7 linked regions of the Homo sapiens genome follow. The protein of the gene in region 2 interacts with the protein of the main gene of each other region in a biochemical or structural test. Each region holds a gene or a part of one and is shown on either strand. Other genes may lie near its edges.

Region 1 (2,695 bases), about 18 Mb from region 2:
ATAAAACCTGCACATTCGGAGGGCTGGCTTTTGGTATACTCAGGTTCTGCAGGGTCCACTGCTGAAATTTGTGGATTGTGGTTTGGGGGCGGGAGAACTGGGGGGGGGGGGGAGTGCAGTTCTGGGAACAATCTCCTGCACACACCAAGAGACAACTGTAGTTTTTGTGTATGTATTTCCAAGAACTTTAATAAACACTATCCAGTAACTTACCAAGGAAGATAGAAGCACAAAGAGAAATGAATGTGTGTATTTTCAACTTTTAAAAAAGGTACCTAAGTCGATATGCAAATTAGGCATGATTCCTAGCACCAGGCAAGAAGTAGGGTACCTTCTATATGTTGTGCATTCAGATACTTTCAGATACTTTCCCTTTCTCTTAGGAGTTGTCTAAATCATGTCAATGTATTCTTCTAATGAGACACTGTTAATCTTTATTTTACAAAGTCCCCCCAATAATACTGTGTGCCTTCATTATGAGGTAAAACTAGAACAAAAAGTATGTCATAATTTTTTATTGATGGCATTTATCCCATGGTTTAACATGTTAATTATACTGTAATAAACATGGCTTTAATATTAAACTTTTCCTTATTATCCAAAGTCACCACAGTCCATTTTAGTAAATATAAAAATATATGCTTAATACTTTGTACAATACTGGTTTTTGGTCCAAACAAAACTGGATCAGAAAAGCCAATAAATTCAACTTTAAGAATCCCCAATTTTTTTTTTAAAGATTTCCAAATGGATTTAGGCAACTTTGAATAATGGGATTTACATAATAAAATCTGAGACAAGACTAAACAAACAACAAAAAAATCTCTAACACAAAATTCAAATTTCAAGTTCACAGATTTATGTTATGCCAAAAAGTACAGAAACAAAATTGTATTTACACAAGTTTCATAATAAAATAATGAAAAAGGCAAGACAGGTGATAGGAGAATGAAAATATAGAAATAGCATATAATTATTAAATGGAGAGTGAACTAGATCTAACAAGTCCTTAGCACGGACCATTCTTTAATCAGGCTTCCTCTATCAGAAAAGTTTAGCGCACAATACACCCAACTCACTCACTTCACACATACACCAGCACAAACTCAGCATAGAAATCATCCGTTTCAACACTCTCTAATCTATACAGAATTCTAATCTATACAGAATTCCTCAGATATAATTACAATTTCAACGCGTTCCATGAACGCTTATCAGCGCACATAATGGTGTAGACAAAGAGGTTCTATACAAAGCCATTCACCGTGCAGGCTCCATTCCTGGGTACAGCCAGACTATGTCAAATCAGTGAATAATCTGCTGGATCATAAAATATTTTTGCTGAAGAATCAGTCACCAGTCTAGCTATTTATTTATTTAAAAAAGGGTGGGTGAGGCAGGGTGGGGCTTCTGTAACGAAAGAGAAAGGAGGAAAATTCCAAAATTAAAGAAGTCCTTAGGCAGATCTGACTTCAGATAACCCCAGCACAAAGTACAATCCAGTATCTGAAAGCAGGGCACCAGCTGTTGTTAAAATTGAGTACAACACCAATGTGACCTTTATTTCCTGCGTCTAACAGCAGTCTTTATCTTGCGACCAGAGAATGAAGTTCCAGAAGAAGAGAACACATTTTTCCCATTTGACCTGTGAAAAATAAAAACTTCATAATGTGACATGATGCTCTGAGCAAAATTTCCAAATGCTAACATTTACCATGAGCAGCACAAGGGTAAGGGGGGTCGGGTGGGGGGGGAGTAGACTCACATTGGTATATACATTTTCTGCTACACCTAACACACACGCTACTGTTATTTTTTTCTCAAACTGTAATATAATCCTCCAGAATTATAGTATGGTAAATTTATGTTGGAGAACATATTTAATTTTACCCAAACCATACGGAATCTTGATGACTTTTAAAAACAAAACATATACATGCACATACCCTTACCAATGTAACTTCTCCATTTCAATAAAAAATTCTCTTACCCCACTGTAAATGCTGCTGGAGACTGGTTAAATGGAAAGCCCCCCGAGCCTGAAGGCTGGGCTGAGGCTGCAGGTGTGCTAGAATTTGCACCAAATGTGAACACTCCTGATGGACTGTTGTTTGTGAAGTTGAAATTTGTAGTGCTGCTGCCAAACTGGAAAGCCGAACCTGCAATAGTTAAAGCAGAAATACTTCATTAGGGCAAAATGATAGGTTTTTTTGTTTGTTTGTTTGTTTTTTGAGACGGAGTCTCGCTCTCTTGCCCAGGCTGGAGTACAGTGGCACAATCTTGGCTCACTGCAACCCTTGCCTCCTGGGTTCAAGTGATTCCCCTGCCTCAGCCTCCCCAGTAGCTGGGACTATATAGGTGCGTGCCACCATGCCTGGCTAATTTTTTGTATTTTAGTAGAGACGTGGTTTCACCATGTTGGCCAGGATGGTCTCGATCTCCTGACCTTGTGATCTGTCCACCTCGGCCTCCCAAAGTGCTGGATTACAGGCGTAAGCCACTGCACCCGGCCGCAACATGATAGGTTTTTAAATTAAAGACTCTGACCTTTACATATAAAAACATGCAAAGAATTAAAATATTCTGGTCTTTTAATCTAAAGAAAACTATTTTCTCCACTGACACATAGTACATACTTGACACCTCCAACAAATCACACAACTTACCTATGACCAAGGGGAAAAGGGCACCCTGG
Region 2 (3,500 bases):
CCCCATTTTTCCCAGGATGCTGGTTTCTAACTACTGGGCTCAAGGAAACCTACCTTGGCCTCCCAAAGTGCAGGAATTACAGGTGTGAGCCACTCACTGCACCTGGCCAGAATATAGCTTCTTAAGGCAGAAATTTTTGTCTCTTTTGTTCACATTTCATCTCCAGCACTTACGGCAAACCATACATGGTAGGCACTCAAGGTATAATGAGTCCTGTCCTCAAGGAGATTACCATGAACCTATGCTCCTTCCCCTTTCTCTCTACAATCTTGTACCCTGTAACACTCTTTTGTAACTTTGTAACACAAAGTTCAGAAAATGGCACTAAAATATATCCATTTGCCCAAGGCCAAAACTTAGAAATCCTAGACTCCTCACTCTCCTATACTTCTTTCCCCCAACATTCAGCCTTGGAGCCAAGCATGCCCAAAACCCAGTATCCATTTGTCAAGTACAGAATTTACAAACCACCACTTCTTCTTCCCTATAATAAATTATTAAAAGACTTGAACACTGCACGGGAAAGCTGGTTAATTTTGTAAATCCTTAACACATACATACAGGTGTACCTCAAAGATATCATGAGTTCAGTTCCAGACAACCACAACACAGTGAATATCACAAAAAAATGAGTGACATAAATTTTTTGGTTTCCCAGTGCATATAAAAGTTATATTTACATGATACTGTAGTCTATTAAGTATGCACTAGCAGTATGTCAAAAAAATATATATATGCACATACCTTAATTTAAAAATATTTTATTAGCCGGGCACAGTGGCTCATACCTATTACTCTCAGCACTTTGGGAGGCCGAGGCAGGAGGATCGCTTGAGGTCAAGAGTTTGAGACCAGCCTAGCCAACATGGTGAAACCCCATCTCTATTAAAAATACAAAAATTGGCTGGGCATGGTGGTGCACACCTGTAATCCCAGCTACTCGGGAGGCTAAGGTGGGAGAATTGCTTGAACCTGGGAGGTGGAGGGTGCAGTGAGCCAAGATCGTGCCACTGCACTCCAGGCTGGGCAACAGAGCGAGACTCCATCTAGAAAAAATAAATAAATAAATAAATATTTTTTTGCTAAAAAATGCTAAGGGTCACCTGAGCCTTCAGCAAGTTATTATCTTCTTGCTGGTGGAGGGTCTTGTCTCAGTGTTGATGGCTGCTGCCTACTCAGGGTGATGGCTGCTGACTACTCAGGGTGATAACTGCTGAAGACTGGAATGACTATGGCAATTTCTAAAAATAAGACAACGGTGAATTGCTGCATTGATTTATTCTTCCTTTCGTGATAGATTTCTCTGTAGCCTGCAATGGTGTTTGATAGCATTTTACCCACAGTAGAACTACTTTCAAAATGGGAGTCAATCCTCTCAAACCTTGCTGCTGCTTTATCAACTAAGTTTATGTAATATTCTAAACCCTTTGTTGTCATTTCAACAATGTTCATAAGCATCTTCCCCAACAGCAGATTCCACCTCAAGAAACTACTTTATTTATTCATTCCTGAGAAGCAATTTCTCATCTATTGATTTTTTTTTTTTTTTTTTGAGATGTACTCTTGCTCTATCGCCCAGGCTGGAGTGCAGTGGCACGATCTCGGTTGCCACTTGGTTGCAGTGGCTCACTGCAACCTCCACTTCCCAGGTTCAAGCAATTCTCCTGCCTCAGCCTCCCAAGCAGCTGGGACTATAGGTGTACACCACAACACCAAAAAATATAAAAAACAAATTTTTGTATTTTTTCTAGAGGCAGAGTTTCGCCATGTTGGCCAGGCTGGTCTCAAACTCCTGACCTCAGATGATCTGCCTGCCTCAGCCTCCCAAAGTGCTGAAATTACAGGTGTTAGCCACCGCCCCCAGCCACCTTGCACTATAAGTTATGCTATGGAGACAGGTTCTTTCCTTAAACCTATGAACCACCCTCTGCTAGCTTCAAACTTATCTTTTGCAGCTTTCTCACCTGTCTCAAACTTCATACAATTAAAGAGAGTTAGGGCTTTGCTCTAGATTAGGCTTTGACTTAAGGGCATGTTGTGGTTGGTCTGATCTTTTATCCAGACCACTAAAACTTTCTCCAGCTCAGCAACAAGGCTGTGTTGCTTTCTAATCATTCATTTGTTTACTGGAATATAATTTTTAATTTCCTTCAAAAACTTTTCATTTGCATTCACAAATTGGCTGTTTGGTACAAGAAGCCTAGCTTTCAGCTTATCTCAGTTTTCGACATGCCTTCCTCACTATGCTTAATCATTTCTAGCTTTTGATTTAAAGTAAGAGACATGCAAACATTCCTTTCACTTGAACATTCAGAAACCACTGTAGTGTTATTAATTGGCCTAATTTCAGTATTATTGTGTCTCAGGGAATAAGGACGCCTTAGGAGATGGAGAGAGGGAACAGCTGGTTGGCAGAGCAGTCAGAACACACACAATGTTTATCAATTAAGTCTGCCTATGGGCATGGTTCCAGACACCTCAAAACAATTACAACAGCAACATCAAAGATCAGTGATCTCAGATCCCCATAATATTTAATAATAATGAGAAAGTTTGAAATATTGCGAGAACTGCCGGGCACAGTGGCTCACACCTGTAATCCCAGCAGAACTGCCGGGCATGGTGGCTCACACCTGTAATCCCAGCACTTTGGGAGGCCAAGGCAGGCAGATCACAAGGTCAGGAGTTCGAGACCAGCCTGACCAACATGGTGAAACCCCATCTCTACTAAAAATACAAAAATTAGCCAGGTGTGGTGGCACATGCCTGTAGTCCCAGCTACTTGGGAGGCTGAGGCAGGAGAATCACTTGAAACCGGAAGGCGGAGGTTGCAGTGAGCCGAGATCGCACCATGGCACTCCAGTCTGGGCGACAGAGCAGAACTCCGTCTCAAAAAAAAAAAAAAAAAAAGAAAGAAAGAAATATTGCGAGAATTACCAAAATGTGACACAGAGACATGAAGTGAGCACATGCTTTTGGAAAAATGGTGCCAAAAGACTCGCTTACCACAGGGTTGTCACTAACCTTCAATTTGCAAAAAAAAAGCAATTATCTGTGAAGCATAATAAAACGAGTTGTGCCTGTGCTTAATTTATGGAAGCACTGTGAAAGACAAACTACTCTGAATACTGAAAGTTTCTTTTACAAAAACATTTCCAAGTTTAAAGAAGTTTTTGGTTATTTTCCTGACGAAACAGCTGCATGACTTCCATAGCAGCCATGAGAAGACATCCCTAAGTTCCAAGTCAGGGGAGCCCACTTTATAATGAGGCTTTTCTGAGCACTGCAGTAATTATACCTCTTAGATAAGAACAAATCAGTTTTACCCCAAATTTTACTGCAAAAAGCAAAAATCTAATGTATTTTCAAAGGGCTGGAGAGGCAGTTATTTCTATTTATATCCTATACTTATGTAACACAAACATGTACAGACAGTCCCAACTTTACATAAATGTACACTGAAGAATTTCAATCCAATAGGATTCATAAATTCAGGAATT
Region 3 (3,500 bases), on a different chromosome or scaffold from region 2:
AACGGGCCCCAGACTCCCCATTTGGTTCCTGGGAACACAGACACCTGGAACTTGGCCTCTGCCCTGATGTGCGCCCTCCCACGCACCCAAGCGTTATATGGGGCATGGTTCGGAGGCTGCCTCCTGGCCCAGCCTCCAGGGAGCTATGGACCAGACAGGTGGAGCGTGAACAGGGTTGCTGGGGCAGCGGCGTGTGGAAAGGGGCGTAACTCACACAGGCCCTCCAGCTCATGCAAGGAGAAGCAAGAGGGGACAGCCCTGCCAAGACAGAGGTTACAGCAGGGCGAGAGCATGGTGTGTGTGTGCAGCTGGGCCGGCTCTGGGCCACGGCAGAGAGAAGGCAGGGGAAGCGGTCCACGGGGTGGGAGAAGGCAAGTCAGGGCCTGGCTCTGAGGAGAAGCCTGGGTCCCCACTGTCCCAGCTGAGGGCCACCTCCCGCGGAGGAATCTGGTGGGGGTGGATTCTCCAGAGGTGGGGACAGGGGCAGCTGAGTGGCCCTGGCTCAGTCGGGGACCTCAGGGTGGGCAGGCAGTCCGCTCTCGCCGCGCCGGTAGGTCTCCCAGAAACCTCTGTCCAGCTGCTCCAGCTGTGGGCCCAGTGGCAGGTGGCCGGCCAGGTGCATGCGGAGGGTCTCCAGCCAGTGTTCCAGCTTCACAAAGGATGGCCTGGGTGACAGGTGGGTGGGGAACGGTGGGTCTGGCTGTCCCGGGAATCGGCCCCACCGTCTCCCAGGCCAGGGCCCCACCCCACTCACCTCTTCTCGGGGTCCAGATCGCAACAGCGCACGGTGATGGGGAAGAAGCTCGGGGGGCAGTTTGGGGGGCAGTAGCGGTCCAGGAATCCTCGCACGTTGAGGCCAAAGTCCATGGTGCGGGGCAGGTAGTCAGGGTCTGCGTTCACCCGCCCGATGATCTGTCCAGTACAAGGCCCGGCAGTTACTCCAGGGGGCCCTCAGCCTGGGCATCTGGGTGCCATCCAGGTGGTTTGAGGGCAGGTGGCACTGGGCCTGGCTGCAGCCTGACTGCAGTACCCCATGGGGGCCAGCCCATGCCTTGCTGTGGGCAGGCTTCCTGGCATGAGGCCCCTGCAGATGCTGAGCCTGCAGCCTGGGTGAGTGGGGAGGAGCCCAGGCCTCAACACCGCTGCTACCCAACCCTGGACCTACCTCGCACAGGACGATCCCAAAGGAGAACACATCCACCTTCTCATCATAGCTGCGGCCTGGATAAAGAGACCGACTGTCAGCAGATGAACACATGGGGGTGCCAGGGATGCCAAAAGGCAGGGGACCAGGCCAGCTGGGAGGATGCCCCGGCCGGGAGGTCCAGGCCCAGGAGGCAGATGCCGGCAACCTCTATGGGAACCCAGGCTTAGGCTCTTTCCCCCAACCCCACCAGGTCTGAGCAAGCCTTTGGGAGCTCTGAGGAGCAAGGGGCAGAGCCCTGGACAAGGAGTTCGAGGCACCGATCAGCTGCGTGACTTTGCACAAGTCATGAACTCTGTGCTGGTCCCAAAAGGGAACCATGTCAGGTCTCTGGAATCTGTGAATGTTACTGGGTCAGAAAAAGGGTCTTTTGCAGATGGGATTAAGTTAAGGATCTGGAGATGAGATGATGCTGGATGATCTGGGTGGGCCCCAAATGCCACTGCAAATGCCCTCTTGAGAGAGACACAGAGAAGACACAGCAGAAGAGGAGGAGGTGGCCCTGTGAAGACAGGGGTGGAGACTGGAGTGATGCGGCCACAAGCCCAGGAATGCAAAACAACCAGAAGGTGGAAGAGGCAAGGAATGCATTCTCCCCTAGATCGCCCTGGAGGGAGCGCAGCCCTGTTGGATTTCAACCTTCTGGCTTCCAAAACTAAGAGGGAATAAATTTCTGCTGTTTATTTTATCTTGAGATGGAGTCTTGCTTTGTTGTCCAGGCAAGAGTGCAGTGGTACGATTGTGGCTCACTGCAACCTCTGCCTCCTGGGTTCAAGCGATTCTCCTGCCTCAATTTCCCGAGTAGCTGGGATTACAGGCGCCTGCCACCATGCCCAGCTAATTTTTGTACTTTTAGTAGAGATGGTGTTTCACCATGTTGGCCAGGCTGGTCTCGAACTCCTGACCTCCAGTGATCTGCCCGCCTCGGCCTCCCAAAGTGCTGGGATTACAGGTGTGAGCCACTGTGCCTGACCATTTTCTGCTGTTTTAAATAATCAAGTTTCTAACAATTTATTACAGCAACCTCAGGAAACTGACACAGACTCTCTGAGCCTCAGTTTCCTTATTGTAAAATGGGAATGATACCAGCTACTTAATGATGTTAAAAATAATCGGTACATGGCCGGGCACAGTGGTTCACACCTGTAATCCCAGCACTTTGGGAGGCCGAGGCGGGTGGATCACCTGAGGTCAGGAGTTCAAGATCAGCCTGGCCAACATGGTGAAACCCCATCTCTACTAAAAATAGAAAAATTAGCCAGGCATGGTGGCAGGTGCCTGTAATCCCAGCTACTAGGGAAACTGAGGCAGGAGAATCACTTGAACCCAGGAGGTGGAGGTTGCAGTGAGCCGAGATCACGCCACTGTACTCCAGCCTGGGTGACAATGCAAGACTCCATCTCAAAAACAAAAAACTGGCCGGGCACGGTGGCTCACACCTGTAATCCCAGCACTTTGGGAGGCTGAGGCGGGTGGATCACGAGGTCAGGAGATCGAGATCATGGTGAAACCCCGTCTCTACTAAAAATACAAAAAATTAGCCAGGCGTGGTGGCGGGCGCCTGTAGTCCCAGCTACGTGGGAGGCTGAGGCAGGAGAATGGTGTGAACCCGGGAGGCGGAGCTTGCAGTGAGCCGAGATCGCACCATGCATTCTAGCCTGGATGACAGAGCAAGACTCGGTCTCAGAAAAAACAAAAAACAAAAAACAAAAAACAAAATACCCGAAACAATTAGTACTAAATGTCAATTCTCATTTACTGAATGCCAACTAGGTGGAAATGAGTTTACAACCTTTAATCCTCACACTAATCCCTAAACATAGGAAACACTAAGACTTTTTTGTTTTTTGAGACAGAGTCTTGCTCTGTCGCCCACTGCAACCTCTGCCTCCTGGGTTCAAGCAACTCTCCTGCCTCTGCCTCCTGGGTTCAAGCAACTCTCCTGCCTCAGCCTCCTGAGTAGCTGGGATTACGGGCGCCCGAAACCATGTCCAGCTAATTTTTGTATTTTTAGTAGAGATGGGGTTTCACTGTGTTGGCCAGGCTGGTCTCAAACTCCTGACCTCATGATCCACCTGCCTCGGCCTCCCAAAGTGCTGGGATTACAAGCGTGAACCACTGCGCCCGGCCACTAAGACTGTTTTATAGTCTTCTTTGCGGGCTATGTTAACTCTGTGTGTGTGTGTGTGTGTGTGTGTGTGTGTGTGTGTGTGTGTGTGTGTTTGACACAGAGTCCCACTCTGTCGTCAGGCTGGAGTACAGTGGTGCGATCTCGGCTCACTGCAAGCTCCGCCTC
Region 4 (2,549 bases), on a different chromosome or scaffold from region 2:
ACCTTAGCTACCTTGCCCCACTGCAGACCCTCTAGGCATTCCTATAGTCTGCTTTGACTGGATTTCTCCAGAACTTCTAATCTCTCAGTCTCTAAATCTTTCTGGCCCTTCATGAGCCCCTATACCTCCTTCTCCCTCCAGAAGGTCGGTTAGATTTGGACAGTACTGAGTGGGATGACATTCATGTGGTCACCGGAGCCCTGAAGCTTTTTCTCCGGGAGCTGCCCCAGCCTCTGGTGCCACCACTGCTGCTGCCCCATTTCCGTGCTGCCCTTGGTAAGGGTTGGAGCTTTGGAAAGAACCCTTGATGTGGGGGACACGGGTGGTAAATAATAGAATAGAGGTTCCCTTATACTCTTCTTTCCCATTCTGACTTTAGAGATGGAAAATAATGTTCAACTCAGGTGCCTACTCCAGTTGCTTTTTTGTGAATGTTTAGAGGGCTGAATTGAAAAGAATTATGAGGCTATAGTTGGGCTATGTGAAAAAGAAAGCTGTGCTAGATTAATGATGTCTTCCATGCCTGTGGGAAAGAGCAGTGCATTTACCCATCCTGTCCTAGCACCTTCCCTAACCTTACTACCATGCCTTTCCCATCACTCTCTCTAGCACTCTCCGAATCAGAGCAGTGCCTCTCTCAGATACAAGAATTAATAGGCTCAATGCCAAAGCCCAACCATGACACTCTACGGTACCTCCTGGAGCATTTATGCAGGTCAGGAAGACAGAACCTCTTTGTTCATGCTGGGGAAAGGTGGAGTGGGGAATGCCACAGGGACTCTGTGCAGGTGGAGTGAAGGTAGGGAAGCACCTAAGTTTAATGGGCAGGTGAGGAAGCAGGCAACCTCTGTGCAGGAGCATATTACCAGAGTCAAAACCTTTATTTTTTTATTTTATTTATTTTTGAGACAGAGTCTCGCTCTGTCACCCAGACTGGAGTGCAGTGGCGCAATTTCAGCTCACTGCAACCTCTGCCTCCCGGGTTCAAGTAATTCTCCTGCCTCAGCCTCCTGAGTAACTGGGATTACAGGTGCCCGCCACCACGCCTGGCTAATTTTTGTATTTTTAGTAGAGACGGGGTTTCACCATGTTGGCCAGGCTGGTCTCGAACTCCTGACCTCAGGTGATTTACCCACCTCAGCCTCCCAAAGTGCTGGGATTACACCGTGCCCGTCAAAGACTTTAGGTCAAAACCTAAAGGTCAGCATCAAGTGGGGAAATGGAACCAAGATGCTGTGAAAGGAATAAGGGAAATCTTACTTCTCCCTTCCCTCTGCCTCTTTGTCTCCCATTGGGACATTGCTGATGGCTTCTTTGGTTGAACTGGGCCTGGGCAGTGACTTCTGAGAGAGGATGGCCACTTGAATTAAAGACTCCCAAACTGTGAGCAGGCAGAACTCTTGGGGCAGCCCCTGAAGTCGGAAGAGGCAGTTATATCTTCAGGTTGTATCCTGAAGGTTTCTCCACTGGTCCATCTCCATTCTCCTTGTATCTCCTTGGTTTTTTTGTTACCATGTGGAGGAATCCCAGAGTGAACTCTTCCCTGCTCAGAACTTTGAAGGGTTAGTTAGATTGCTATGAAGTGGCAAGCTGCTGCCATATATCCCCTTCCTTGGCCTTTGCTTACAGGGTGATAGCACACTCAGATAAGAATCGCATGACACCCCACAACCTGGGAATTGTGTTTGGACCAACCCTGTTTCGGCCAGAGCAGGAGACATCTGACCCAGCAGCCCATGCTCTCTACCCAGGGCAGCTGGTCCAGCTGATGCTCACCAACTTCACCAGCCTCTTCCCCTGATGCAGGGAAGGAAGAAGAGAAAACATATTTCCGGTCATCTCTGGTGGTGAGAGGCTGGTGTTCTGTTTTGAGGATATCCCTTTAAATCTCCCAAATGACTGTCTCTATCTTCATGAGTGTGACTTGAGGTGTTGGGATGGGTGAGGGAGCTTCTCTAAAGAGGAAAGTGAGTGGATTAACCCCTGCTTCTCTTCTTGTTCCCTGTTATCATTCCTCCCCAACATAATAATACATAAAGTGGCATGGTATTTTTTCTGATGCAGTTCCTTTATTATCAGGAAACAGTGTCATTATCAAATTTCTCCTCAAAACGTATACAGACTATACATAGCCCCCAGCCCATACCTCCCATCCCTGGGGCATCTTGTGCATGGGACTGCAGCTCCCCCAATTTTTCTGGAAGGATAGAAACCCCTTAGGAAATGCGATCTGTGATGGATGAGATTCCCTACTCTTTAGGCACTAGAGTTGAGGAATTCTGTTTCCCCAGGTAGGGATCTCAGTAAGACACTCATGTTGCCCACAGCCATGTTGGGGGGCCCAGAGGGAGGTGGGGTATGTCCAGAGCTGCCCCGCTGATCATGGGAAGGAGGAGGACTCAGCCCCTGGGGCTCATCCAGAATAGCCACAAAGTCCAGCTGAGTGTTGTCAAGATCAAGAGAGTCCAGGGGGTTACATACCTGTCCTTCGGGAGGAGGGTACAAGGCAGGACCCCCTCCTAGCCTGCCCACCTCAGGATGACCACAGC
Region 5 (3,500 bases), on a different chromosome or scaffold from region 2:
TTAAGCTATTCTCCTGCCTCAGCCTCCCGAGTAGCTGGGACTACAGGCGTGTGCCACCACACCTGGCTAATTTTTTGCATTTTTAGTAGAGACGGGGTTTCACCGTGTTAGCCAGGAAGGTCTCGATCTCCTGACCTTGTGATCTGCCTGCCTCGGCCTCCCAAAGTGCTGGGATTACAGGTGTGAGCCACTGCATCCGGCCTGCCCCTACTACTTCTTAAGTCTTTCACCCACTCGTCTAAATGAAGAAGACAATGGGAAGCCATTGAAGGACTTTTAACCAGAAGGGTCACGATCACATCCACATTTTAGAGCTATTAGTTTGGCTACAATAAGGAGAAGAGATTGGAAATACATGTATTGGAGGCAGGAAAGCAGTTGGAAGGAAGACTGCTATAGTAATTGGAACCAAAGATGATAGTACTATAAGTGATTGATAGTGACAGTGAGGATGGAGAAGAAGGCAAGGATTTGAAAAAGAGGTAAGAGGTAGACTGAGCAAGACTTGGAGTCATATTCTGAGGATTAAAGATGACCTGAAGGTTTCTGACATGAGTGACTTTGATGCTTGATGACACCATTTCCCTAAAAAAGATTATAGAAGGAGAAGTTATTTGATGAATACATTCTGCTTGTCTTTTTTTATTTTTAAATAGTTTTTGGTTATCTTTAGTCAGTTTTCTCTGCCATGTCAAAAAGTATATTGTTAATCTACTTGCATTAATATTTTGTAGGCAAGAAGTAGTCCTGAACTACTGCCTTCTGGTGTGACTGATGAAAATGAGGTGACTACAGCTGTTACTGAAAAAGTTTGTTCTGAACTCGACAATAATAGACATTCAAAAGAGGTAAAAAATGATTTTATATTTACATTGGGGACTTGTAAGGGTGGAAGGACAGGAGGAGGTGAATTATCAGACATTACTTAATGGGTACAATATACATTATTCAGATGATAGATACATCAAAAGCCCCGACTTCACCTTTAGGCAATATAGCCATGTAACAAAATTCCACTTGTGCCCCTTGAATTTATACATATAAAATAAATAAATGTTCTTAATAGCTGGATGTGGTGGCAAGTGCCTGTAGTCCCAGCTACTCAGGAGGTGAAGTAGGTGGATTGCTTGAGCCTGAGTTGGAGGCACTAGGCAACATAGAGGGACCTAATCTCTAAAAATTAAATGATATTTTAAAAAAATGTCCTTATCACTGTTTTCCTCAGATGAATTATACACTATTTTAGGTGAAGGAAAGAGAAAAATATGTTAAGGTGAAGGAAAGAGAAAAATGTGTTAAAGGTGCTTTATGACTAGAGAGATATTTGTTACATTACCATCAGTTGATTTTCCTTTTGTTTTCAAGACCAAGTCTCACTCTGTCACCCAGCCTTGAGTGCAGTAGTGTGATCTTGGCTCACTGCAACCTCCACCTCCCAGGTTCAAGCAATTCTCCTGCCTCAGCCTCCTGAGTAGCTGCACATGCCCAGCTAATTTTTGTGTTTTTGGTAGAGACGGGGTTTCACCATTTTGGCCAGGATGGTCTCTATCTCTTGACCTTGTGATCTGCCCACGTCAGCCTCCCAAAGTGCTGGGATTACAGGTGTGAGCCACCGTGCCTGGCCCATCAGTTGATTTTTCAAAGCATGTGTATGACCTGAATGTGTGTTATTTTATTTTAAAATGTTACCTTTTAAAACTTTGGTTTCTAAAAAATAATTTTAATTTAAAATTATTTTTAGGAAGATCCATTTAATGTAGACTCAAGTTCGCTGACAGGTCCAGTTGCAGATACAAACTTGGATTTTTTCCAGTCTGATCCTTTTGTTGGCAGTAAGTACTCTTTTTTTTATATTATAGATTTACCCAAAAAAAAGACTTTTTAATATATAAACTAAGGATTCAAGGCTTCAGTTTCAATAGCCTACCAACTCAGTCTGTCGCCCAGGCTGGAGTGCAGTGGCACGATCTCGGCTCACTGCAACCTCCGCCTCCTGGGTTCAAGCGATTCTCCTGTCTCAGCCTCTTGAGTAGCTGAGACTACAGGCGCCCACCACCACACCCAGCTAATTTTATGTATGTATGTATGTATGTATGTGTGTATTTATTTATTTATGTAATTAATTTATTTAGAAATGGAGTCTCGCTCTGTCGCCAGGCTGGAGTGCAGTGGCACAATCTCGGCTCACTGCAACTTCTGCCTCCCGGATTCAAGCTAATCTCCTGCCTCAGCCTCCTGAGTAGTTGGGATTGCAGGTGCCTGCCACCACACCCAGCTAACTTTTGTGTTTTTAGTAGAGGCGGGGTTTCACCATGTTGGCCAGGATGGTCTCCATCTCTTGACCTCGTGATCCGCCCACGTTGGCCTCCCAAAGTGCTGGGATTACAGGCGTGAGCCACCGCGTCTGGCCTAATTTTTGTATTTTTAGTAGAGACTGGGTTTCACCATTTTGACCAGGCTGGTCTTGAACTCCTGATGTAAGGTGATCCGCCTGCCTCGGCCTTCTAAAGTGCTGGGATTACAGGTGTGAGCCACTGCGCCTGGCCTGCTTTGTATTTTCCTACTGACTAATGTTGAACATCTTTCTAGATGCTTATTAGCCATTTGTGTATCTTCTTTGGAAAAGTGTTTATTCAATTTTGGTGAAGTCCAGTTATCTATTTTTTCTTCTGTCACTTGTGCTTTTGGTGTCATCTAAGAAACTATTACCTAAGTCGCAAAGATTTAATGCTGTCTTTGTCTAAGAGTTTTATAGTTTTGCTGTTACAGTTAGATCTTTGATCCATTTTGAGTTTATTTTTGTATATGATGTGAGATAGAGGTCGAGCTTCATTCTTTTGCAAGTGGATATCCAGTTGTCCTAACACCATTTGTTGAAAAGACTGTCCTTTCTCCATTTTGTGTTCTTGATACGCTTGTCAAAAATCAAATGACCATAAAGGTAAGGATTTATTTCTGGACTCTTCAATCCTGTAAGAATTTTTTTTTTTTTGCTTCAGTAAAGCTCAGTACCTTTATTTCTGAACTGGTGATGATAATACCCTCCCAGTACTCTTGTGGAGAGTAGAGATTTTGTTAGTAAAATTTTTGCTGTAATGTCTTCCCCTCCATCCGTAACCTCAACTTGTGATCAAGGTAAGTATAGTTGGCTGTATATTTCATAAGGTCAATGACATTCCTTATTTTATCTACTGTGAAGTGAAGTTATTGAAATAAACTTTGCTTTGCTTTTGTTTGAAAGTTACTCTTTAAGTAGTGGTGTCACCACAGTAAATATTGTTATTTGGATTTCTTTGTGTTTATTTTATCACAGGTGATCCTTTCAAGGATGATCCTTTTGGAAAAATCGGTCAGTATCTTATTGAGTTTCATCTTAGCTTTCATTCATTTCTGCTTAATAATAAGCTTATGTTATTTAGGTCTGAAACTGAAGCCCCAGTAAGATGCTCTATGTGCCTGGCATTTTCAGAAAGAGAGTAGTAAATTCTTTTGATTTTGCT
Region 6 (3,500 bases), on a different chromosome or scaffold from region 2:
GGAAGAAGAGGTTGAAGACTTCTTATTGAAGAAGCCCATTGTACCTACTGATGGCAAGCGTGTCATTGTTGTGTTTCACTGCGAGTTTTCTTCTGAGAGAGGTCCCCGCATGTGAGTGCTGCACGGAACTGGGTTCTGGGGCACAGGCTCCATGATGCTTTTGTGGGACATGGTGGTTTGTGGCTTGCACTTGGAGCATATTTTAGCATATCAAGCAACCTCTGGCACATAACAAGCCATTTTCATATGTAATTTTATCCTGAGGTGAACTTTGGCTCTTCCAGTCTCCCCGACTGTCCTTAGTCTGATCTGTGGGGCTACTGTTCTCATGTGACCTCCTTCAAGTACAAAGTGACCGTTCCTTATGCAAATGCCAGAAAAGTGTGAAGTTCTCATTCTGTAAAACCTCATATGATATGATGCTTTGAAACACTTGATATTATTACCAATTTCAGGGTGAAAAGAAAAAAGGGGGCCAAAGAGCTGCCCATCAGTCATCTGTGTCCATTCTAAAAGGATTGCAAGCCTGCTGTTTGTCAGGCACTGACAATAAAAATGTAACTACAGTAAAACACAGTACAGTAAAAATACCACAGCGAGCAGGACCAACAAGGACCCTACTGCAGCAGAGATCCAAGTGGGGATCCGTATAAATGCTAGGAGGACAGGCAGAGAGGTAGGACAGAGAGTGCAGCTTAACTAGGATGGTCCAAGGGAGACTTCTGCAGGACCACGTTCTTATGCCACCTTTTTATTTTGAACCAATTTATTTTAAAAAACATTTTTAAATTAAAAAATTTCAATTTTTTTTTTTTGACGGAGTTTTGCTCTTGTTGCCCAGGCTGGAGTGCAGTGGCACAATCTCTTCTCACTGCAACCTCTGCCTCCCAGGTTCAAGCAGTTCTCCTGCCTCAGCCTCCCAAGTAGCTGGGATTACAGGCATGCGCCATCACGCCCGGCTAATTTTGTATTTTTAGTAGAGGCAGGGTTTCTACATGTTGGTCAGGCTGGTCTTGAACTCCCGACCTTAGGTGATCCGCCTGCCTCAGCCTCCCAAAGTAGTGGGATTACAGGCGTGAGCCACTGCACCTGGCTTTTTCTTTCTTTCTTTCTTTCTTTTTTTTTTTTTTTTTTGAGGCGGAGGCACACTGTTTTCACCCAGACTGGAATGCAGTGGCATGATCTCGGCTCACTGCAACCTCCACCTCCTGGGTTCAAGCGATTCTCCTGCCTCAGCCTCCTGAGTAGCTGGGATAACAGGCGTGCACCACCACACCCGGCTAATTTTTGTATTTGTAGTAGAGATGGGGGTTTCACCATGTTGGCCGGGCTGGTCTTGAACTCCTGACCTCAGGTGATCCACCCGCCTTGACCTCCCAAAGTGCTGGGATTACAGGTGTGAGCCACCACGCCCAGCAGAAATTTCAAATTTTGAGATGGGGTCTTAATATATTGGCCAGGTTGGTCTCAAACTCCTGGCCTCAAGCAATCCTCTCTCCTTGGCCTCCAAAGTGCTAGGATTGCAGGCATGAGCCACTGTGCCCACCCCTTTGAACCTTTTTTTTTTTTTGAGACGGAGTCTCGCTCTGTCACCCAGGCTGGAGTGCAGTGGCACAATCTCGACTTACTGCAAGCTCCGCCTCCTGGGTTCATGCCATTCTCCTGCCTCAGCCTCCCGAGTAGCTGGGACTACAGGTGCCCACCATCACGCCTGGCTAATTTTTTTGTATTTTTAGTAGAGACAGGGTTTCACCATTTTAGCCAGGATGGTCTCCATCTCCTGACCTTGCGATCTGCCCGTCTCGGCCTCCCAAAGTGCTTGGATTACAGGCGTGAGCCACTGCGCCTGACCTGAACCATTTTAAAGCTCAAGAAGAGGTGAGGTTATGGCTGGGCACAGTGGCACCTGTAATCCCAACACTTTGGGAGGCCGAGGCAGGAGGATCACTTGCTCGGGAGTTTCAGACCAGACCAACCTGGGTAACACAGTGGGACCACACCTCTACAAAAAATAGGAGGTGGGAGGATCGTTTGAGCCCAGCAGGTCGAGGCTGTGGTGAGCCATGATCATGCCACTGTACTCCAGCCTAGGTGACAGAGTGAGATTCTGTCTCTCTCTCACACACACACACACACACACACACACACACAAAGGTTATACTTGCACACACTTCACCTGATTTTATTAATTTTTAACATTTTGTCACATTTGTATGTACATGCTCTACACACAGGCAACTACAGTACAACTTGACACTTTTGACTGTCATCTCATAAGTCCTTCAAACATCTGTCTCCAAAGGATGCTCATTCATGAATGGAATTATTCACTCAGCAGTTTTTTTGTTTGTTTGTTTGAGATGTAGTCTTGCTCTGCCACCCAGACTGGAGTGCAGTGGTGCGATCTCGGATCACTGCAACCTCCACCTCCCGGGTTCAAGCAATTCTCCTGCCTCAGGCTCCCAAGTAGCTGGGACTACGGGTGCATGCCACCATGCCAAGCTAATGTTTGTATTTTTAGTAGAGACGGGGTTTTGCTACATTGGCCAGGCTGGTCTCGAACTCCTGACCTCAAGTGATCTACCCGCCTCAGCCTCCCAAAGTGCTGGGATTATAGGCCTGAAACAAACTAATCTGGACACACATACACACACATGTAAATTGTTTTTAAACCCACAAAAGATGCTGCTCTCTTTTTTTTTTATTTTTGAGTCAGGGTCAGTCTCTGTTGTCCAGGCTGGAGTACAGTGGCAGGAGCACAGCTCACTGTAGCCTCTGCCTCCCAGGCTCAAGTGATTCTCCCACCTCAGCCTCCCAGGAAGCTAGGACCACAAACATGCATCACCATGCCTGGCTAATTTTTGTATTTTTTATAGAGACAGGGTCTCACTGTGTTGCCCAGGCTGGTCTCAAACTCCTGGGCTCAGGCAATCCTGGCCTCCCAAAGTGCTTGGATTACAGGTGTGAGCCGCCATGCCCAGCCCAAAAGATGCTATTCTCTTAATCTCTCATTTCCCCATCTTCCTCTTTAACACCTCTAATATAAAGGACATTATTATACCATATTGAAACTTCACCTAGATATACAGAAAACGCCCCATCTCTGTATTCTGTATTTGCAAGCTGCATGTTTATATCACCATCTACAGATACCCCTTACACTTCGTTCCCCACTTGAGTTTCGCCATCACTGGCTTTCTGTTGTTCCACTGGGGAAAGATTTGGGATTCACAGGTGAACTCTTTTTTTTTTTTTTTTTTTTTTTTGAGTTGGAATCTCGCCCTTTCGCCCAGGCTGGAATGCAGTGGCACAATCTCGGCTCACTGCAGCCTCCTCCTCCCGGGTTCAAGCATTTCTCTGCCTCAGCCTCCCAAGTAGCTGGGATTACAGGCACCTGCCACCACGCCCAGCTAATTTTTTGTAGTTTTAGTAGACACAGGGTTTCACTATCTTGGCCAGGCTGGTCTCGAACTCCTGACCTCGTGATCCACCGCCTCAGC
Region 7 (3,500 bases), on a different chromosome or scaffold from region 2:
GGGTGCTCATAATGAGACTTCATAACGTGATAGAAGGGTGCCTTTTCTTCTGATTTCTACATGGAGCAGGAGGACCTCAGGGAGGTCTGAACGGCGGCATGAGAGCTCGTGCAGATGACCAGAGGACCCACGTCCTCCAGGCTGCTGACTTAACATGGGAAGCTGTTTGGGCAGCTCATTTCTGTTTTCCAAACTTTGCAATTTGAGAAAAAAAAAATCCAACTGTTAAATCAGGCCTGCTCCATGAGTCTCTATATTTTTGATTCCTTATCAGATAAAAATGAACCATCTCTACCCAACGATACATGCAGGGGAGTCAGACAAATCAGAGACTGGAGGCAACCCAGTCAAAATCACACACACACAATCTGGCCGACTCTAGAATGTAGGAAATTTTACTGAAGAATGGAGTCTGACAGTTAATCTGGTTCATATTTGCATTTATGAGGCTTTTTCTTCCCAGCAATCCAAAGTTTGAAGCAGAACAGAGATTCTGCAGTGAGCATTCTATTAGAGCTTCCCCCCATCATATGCAAATTAAAACAAAGGATACTTTTGCATTTAGGGAAAGCAATAAACTCATGTAACAGGATAGAGATCTCTGCCTGGATCTGTTGTTCCTTAAACATAAAAAGTGGCTGAGGATGAGTCTGACACATGTGAAGGCAGAATTAATGCTAAATAGTAAAACAGCATTCTTTTCCAATCTTCACAAGACCATTAAAAAATCCACAGTAACCTGTAAAAAATGTGACTAAAATAATCATGATCTGCTTTAATTTGGTTACCCATCCTCATCATTCTTTATGTTTCAGGTCAAATGAAAAGCCAATCACAGAAGACATTTTCCTGCCCTCACCTGTAAGCTTCATCTAAAGACATGTCCATCCTCTTCATGATGTAGGCGATAGCGATGGTGGCGGAGCGGGAGATCCCAGCTAAACAGTGCACTAGAACACATCCATTGGAGGCTTTTGCTTTCTCTGTATAAGTCAAATGCAAGAAAGGTCACTACTAACTATTTTGTTCAGCAGTGAAATCTTGTTTCCATTTACTTACTCAGTGTCTTCCACCTGAAAACCTCTACGCAAATCTCATCTGTGTATATCATATTTATCCTCGCAATATTCTTTTGAGGAGGCAGGGGAAGATAATTCCCTCACCACTGACATGCAGGACAACTGGGGTCCAAAACTGTTTGTTAATAAGCAATTCGTTAATAAGCAAGCTACTACTAACTCAGGTTTCCTGACTTATGTTAGTATTTTCCCCTAAGATATGGGTAATATTTAATATATTCCTGTTATCTGACACTTCAAATTTTTCCCTGATTACCTAAGAAATATAATTACATTTTTTAAAATCATTATTACTATTTTGAGATAGAGTCTTGCTCTGTCGCCCAGGCTGGAGTGCACGATGTCGGCTCATTGCAATCTCCGCCTCCCGGATTCAAGTGATTCTCCTGCCTTAGCCTCCAGAGTAGCTGGGATTACAGGTGTGCAGCACCACGCCTGGCTAATTTTTCTATTTTTAGTGGAGTTGCGGTTTCACCATGTTGGGCAGGCTGGTCTCTAACTCCTGGCCTCAAGTGATCCGTCCACCTCAGCCTCCCAAAGTGCTGGGATTACAGGAGTGAGCCACTGCCCCTGGCCTCCCTATTTTAAGCAACTTTTCTGTATGTCATAAAATGGCTCAACTTTATTTACTGAGTTTTAGAAGAAAACCTTGTATAGGCTATGAATCAGGTTTAGCAGGTCACTTTAATGAGATCCAAGAGAACTTTTATCCCTTCCTTGATACCAGGAGTTATTGTCTTATGGCATTATCTCAATTCCCCACAACATGATGGAAGGACTCACGGACACTTTGTTAGAACCAAAGAACCAAGGAAATCCAAGCAGTGCTGCCATCTCTCACTGCTGAGGGGCTTAACAATATGTACATGTGGCAGGGGACGAGGTTATTCCACACAGCCTGGAAGCTACTAACATTCTGGCCAGTTCCATGACTGCCTCAATTCTAAATAATTACATGTGTGCTCAGTCATGAAGCTGAATTCTCCCCTTTTCATTCTTGGTAGATACTACCAAAAGTCTACTGAACCTTGTGTTAAAATTCTTGCGATTAACAGATGCGCAAAGAATCTTACTTTGGCAGCTGAATAATACAAAGCTATTCAATCTCACTGCCTATGCTATAAATATAAGTTTCTAGTGTAATGATTATTATATATAACATAATTATTCATCATATATAAAGCAACATACAGGTTTTGGGTAGCATATGAATAATTAAGCAGCAAGCAGCTTCCCTTCTAGATCAGGAAACCAAACACAATAAAACACTAACAAATGAATACCAAGCAACACTCAAACAAAGAATTGCATGCTATACAAGTAAGAACATATAAACTCGTGTACACAGTCTCATGCCTTCCTGTGCCTCCAGCATCCCCTTCCTTCTCAGCTATCATTTACCCCACGTTACTCTCAGTGTTTCCTTCCCTTTCTGCCCTACTGCTAAGAAGCTCAAAGCTAAGGTTTCTACTCAATTTCAATAAGAAGTAGCAATTCAGACTTTTTGTCAGTTACTGTACATTTCCTAGCCCCTATTACTTGATTATTGCTCCTTTATACCATTATAATGTGTATGTGTGAGAATATGTGTATCTTTTGGTTCTAACCTATTATTGAAAACTGCTTCAAATCCTTACTGGAAGGAGTCTGGGTTTTTGTTTTTTAATGTTGACAATACTCTCTCATTAATTTTAATAATTATCTATCTCAAAACCTAGATTATAAGGACCTAGAAGGATCTTGCTTGCTTCTAACAATCCCCCAAAAGACTTAACGCTAGGCACATGGTAGGCATCCAGCTGATACTGGCTGATACATATTTTCAAAAGAGATTTTAATAAAAAAAGAAGAAGGCTGGAAGGAAATAAAACAATGACAGTAACATGCGTTACGATGTTGAGGTTATAGGTTTCCTTTTCTCTGTTTTTCAAATTTTCTGCAATGTGCTTACAACTGTTTTTATAACCACAACTCTTTTGATGACGTCTTTTAAAAATGAAAAAAACAAGTGACTATACTGGAGTTGAGGTTCACCAGCATGCATCTTGGGAGACATGAGCCCTAAACTGTGTCTTCAAGCAAAGGAATTAATTTAACACACACAACTGGCAGAGAGGAGAAGGGAAATGTGTGCGAGAAAGCCCTGCAGTGGGACTGAGCAAAGTGCTCATTCGAAAACAGCCTGCCTTGGAGAAGAAACCAGAGAGAAGGTTTGAGAAGGTTTCAAAGGTGGGAAGCAGGTGTTTGAGGGTGGTGGGAATGTTAGGCTAAGGGCTACATTTGTTTTTTCAGACAGGGTCTCACTCTGTTCATCCAGGCTGGAGTGCCATAGTGCAAACATAGCTCACTGTAACTGTGAGCTCCTAGGCTCAAGCGATCCTCCTGCCTCAGCCTCCCAGCTAGGACTACAGGTGCACACCA

Evidence for each region.
Region 1: the proteins of MAPK14 (region 2) and NUP153 form a complex in vitro, tested with the Homo sapiens proteins (one study listed by IntAct).
Region 3: of the proteins of MAPK14 (region 2) and LIMK1, one has a biochemical effect on the other in vitro, tested with the Homo sapiens proteins (one study listed by BioGRID and IntAct).
Region 4: the proteins of MAPK14 (region 2) and ARHGAP9 are reported together in a solved structure, tested with the Homo sapiens proteins (one study listed by BioGRID).
Region 5: of the proteins of MAPK14 (region 2) and EPS15, one has a biochemical effect on the other in vitro, tested with the Homo sapiens proteins (one study listed by BioGRID).
Region 6: the proteins of MAPK14 (region 2) and CDC25A form a complex in vitro, tested with the Homo sapiens proteins (one study listed by BioGRID).
Region 7: the proteins of MAPK14 (region 2) and DUSP16 form a complex in vitro, tested with the Homo sapiens proteins (one study listed by BioGRID).

The regions. Positions count from the first base shown.
Region 1 is NC_000006.12:17,614,537-17,617,231, forward strand, and holds the end of NUP153 (nuclear pore complex protein Nup153), read right to left. Parts: intron 2,160-2,695; coding exon 1,991-2,159; intron 1,646-1,990; coding exon 1,561-1,645; 3' UTR 501-1,560; downstream 1-500. UniProt on the Homo sapiens protein: Component of the nuclear pore complex (NPC), a complex required for the trafficking across the nuclear envelope. Functions as a scaffolding element in the nuclear phase of the NPC essential for normal nucleocytoplasmic transport of proteins and mRNAs.
Region 2 is NC_000006.12:36,034,308-36,037,807, reverse strand, and holds part of MAPK14 (mitogen-activated protein kinase 14), read right to left. Parts: intron 1-3,500. UniProt on the Homo sapiens protein: Serine/threonine kinase which acts as an essential component of the MAP kinase signal transduction pathway.
Region 3 is NC_000007.14:74,118,304-74,121,803, reverse strand, and holds part of LIMK1 (LIM domain kinase 1), read right to left. Parts: intron 1,222-3,500; coding exon 1,166-1,221; intron 913-1,165; coding exon 755-912; intron 666-754; coding exon 503-665; 3' UTR 1-502. UniProt on the Homo sapiens protein: Serine/threonine-protein kinase that plays an essential role in the regulation of actin filament dynamics. Acts downstream of several Rho family GTPase signal transduction pathways.
Region 4 is NC_000012.12:57,471,769-57,474,317, reverse strand, and holds the end of ARHGAP9 (rho GTPase-activating protein 9), read left to right. Parts: intron 1-141; coding exon 142-276; intron 277-609; coding exon 610-715; intron 716-1,629; coding exon 1,630-1,801; 3' UTR 1,802-2,049; downstream 2,050-2,549. Other genes in the region: zinc finger protein GLI1, read right to left, coding at 2,257-2,549. UniProt on the Homo sapiens protein: GTPase activator for the Rho-type GTPases by converting them to an inactive GDP-bound state. Has a substantial GAP activity toward CDC42 and RAC1 and less toward RHOA. Has a role in regulating adhesion of hematopoietic cells to the extracellular matrix.
Region 5 is NC_000001.11:51,400,767-51,404,266, reverse strand, and holds part of EPS15 (epidermal growth factor receptor substrate 15), read left to right. Parts: intron 1-734; coding exon 735-848; intron 849-1,741; coding exon 1,742-1,832; intron 1,833-3,313; coding exon 3,314-3,349; intron 3,350-3,500. UniProt on the Homo sapiens protein: Involved in cell growth regulation. May be involved in the regulation of mitogenic signals and control of cell proliferation. Involved in the internalization of ligand-inducible receptors of the receptor tyrosine kinase (RTK) type, in particular EGFR.
Region 6 is NC_000003.12:48,160,918-48,164,417, reverse strand, and holds part of CDC25A (M-phase inducer phosphatase 1), read left to right. Parts: coding exon 1-111; intron 112-3,500. UniProt on the Homo sapiens protein: Tyrosine protein phosphatase which functions as a dosage-dependent inducer of mitotic progression. Directly dephosphorylates CDK1 and stimulates its kinase activity. Also dephosphorylates CDK2 in complex with cyclin-E, in vitro.
Region 7 is NC_000012.12:12,479,364-12,482,863, forward strand, and holds part of DUSP16 (dual specificity protein phosphatase 16), read right to left. Parts: intron 984-3,500; coding exon 860-983; intron 1-859. UniProt on the Homo sapiens protein: Dual specificity protein phosphatase involved in the inactivation of MAP kinases. Dephosphorylates MAPK10 bound to ARRB2.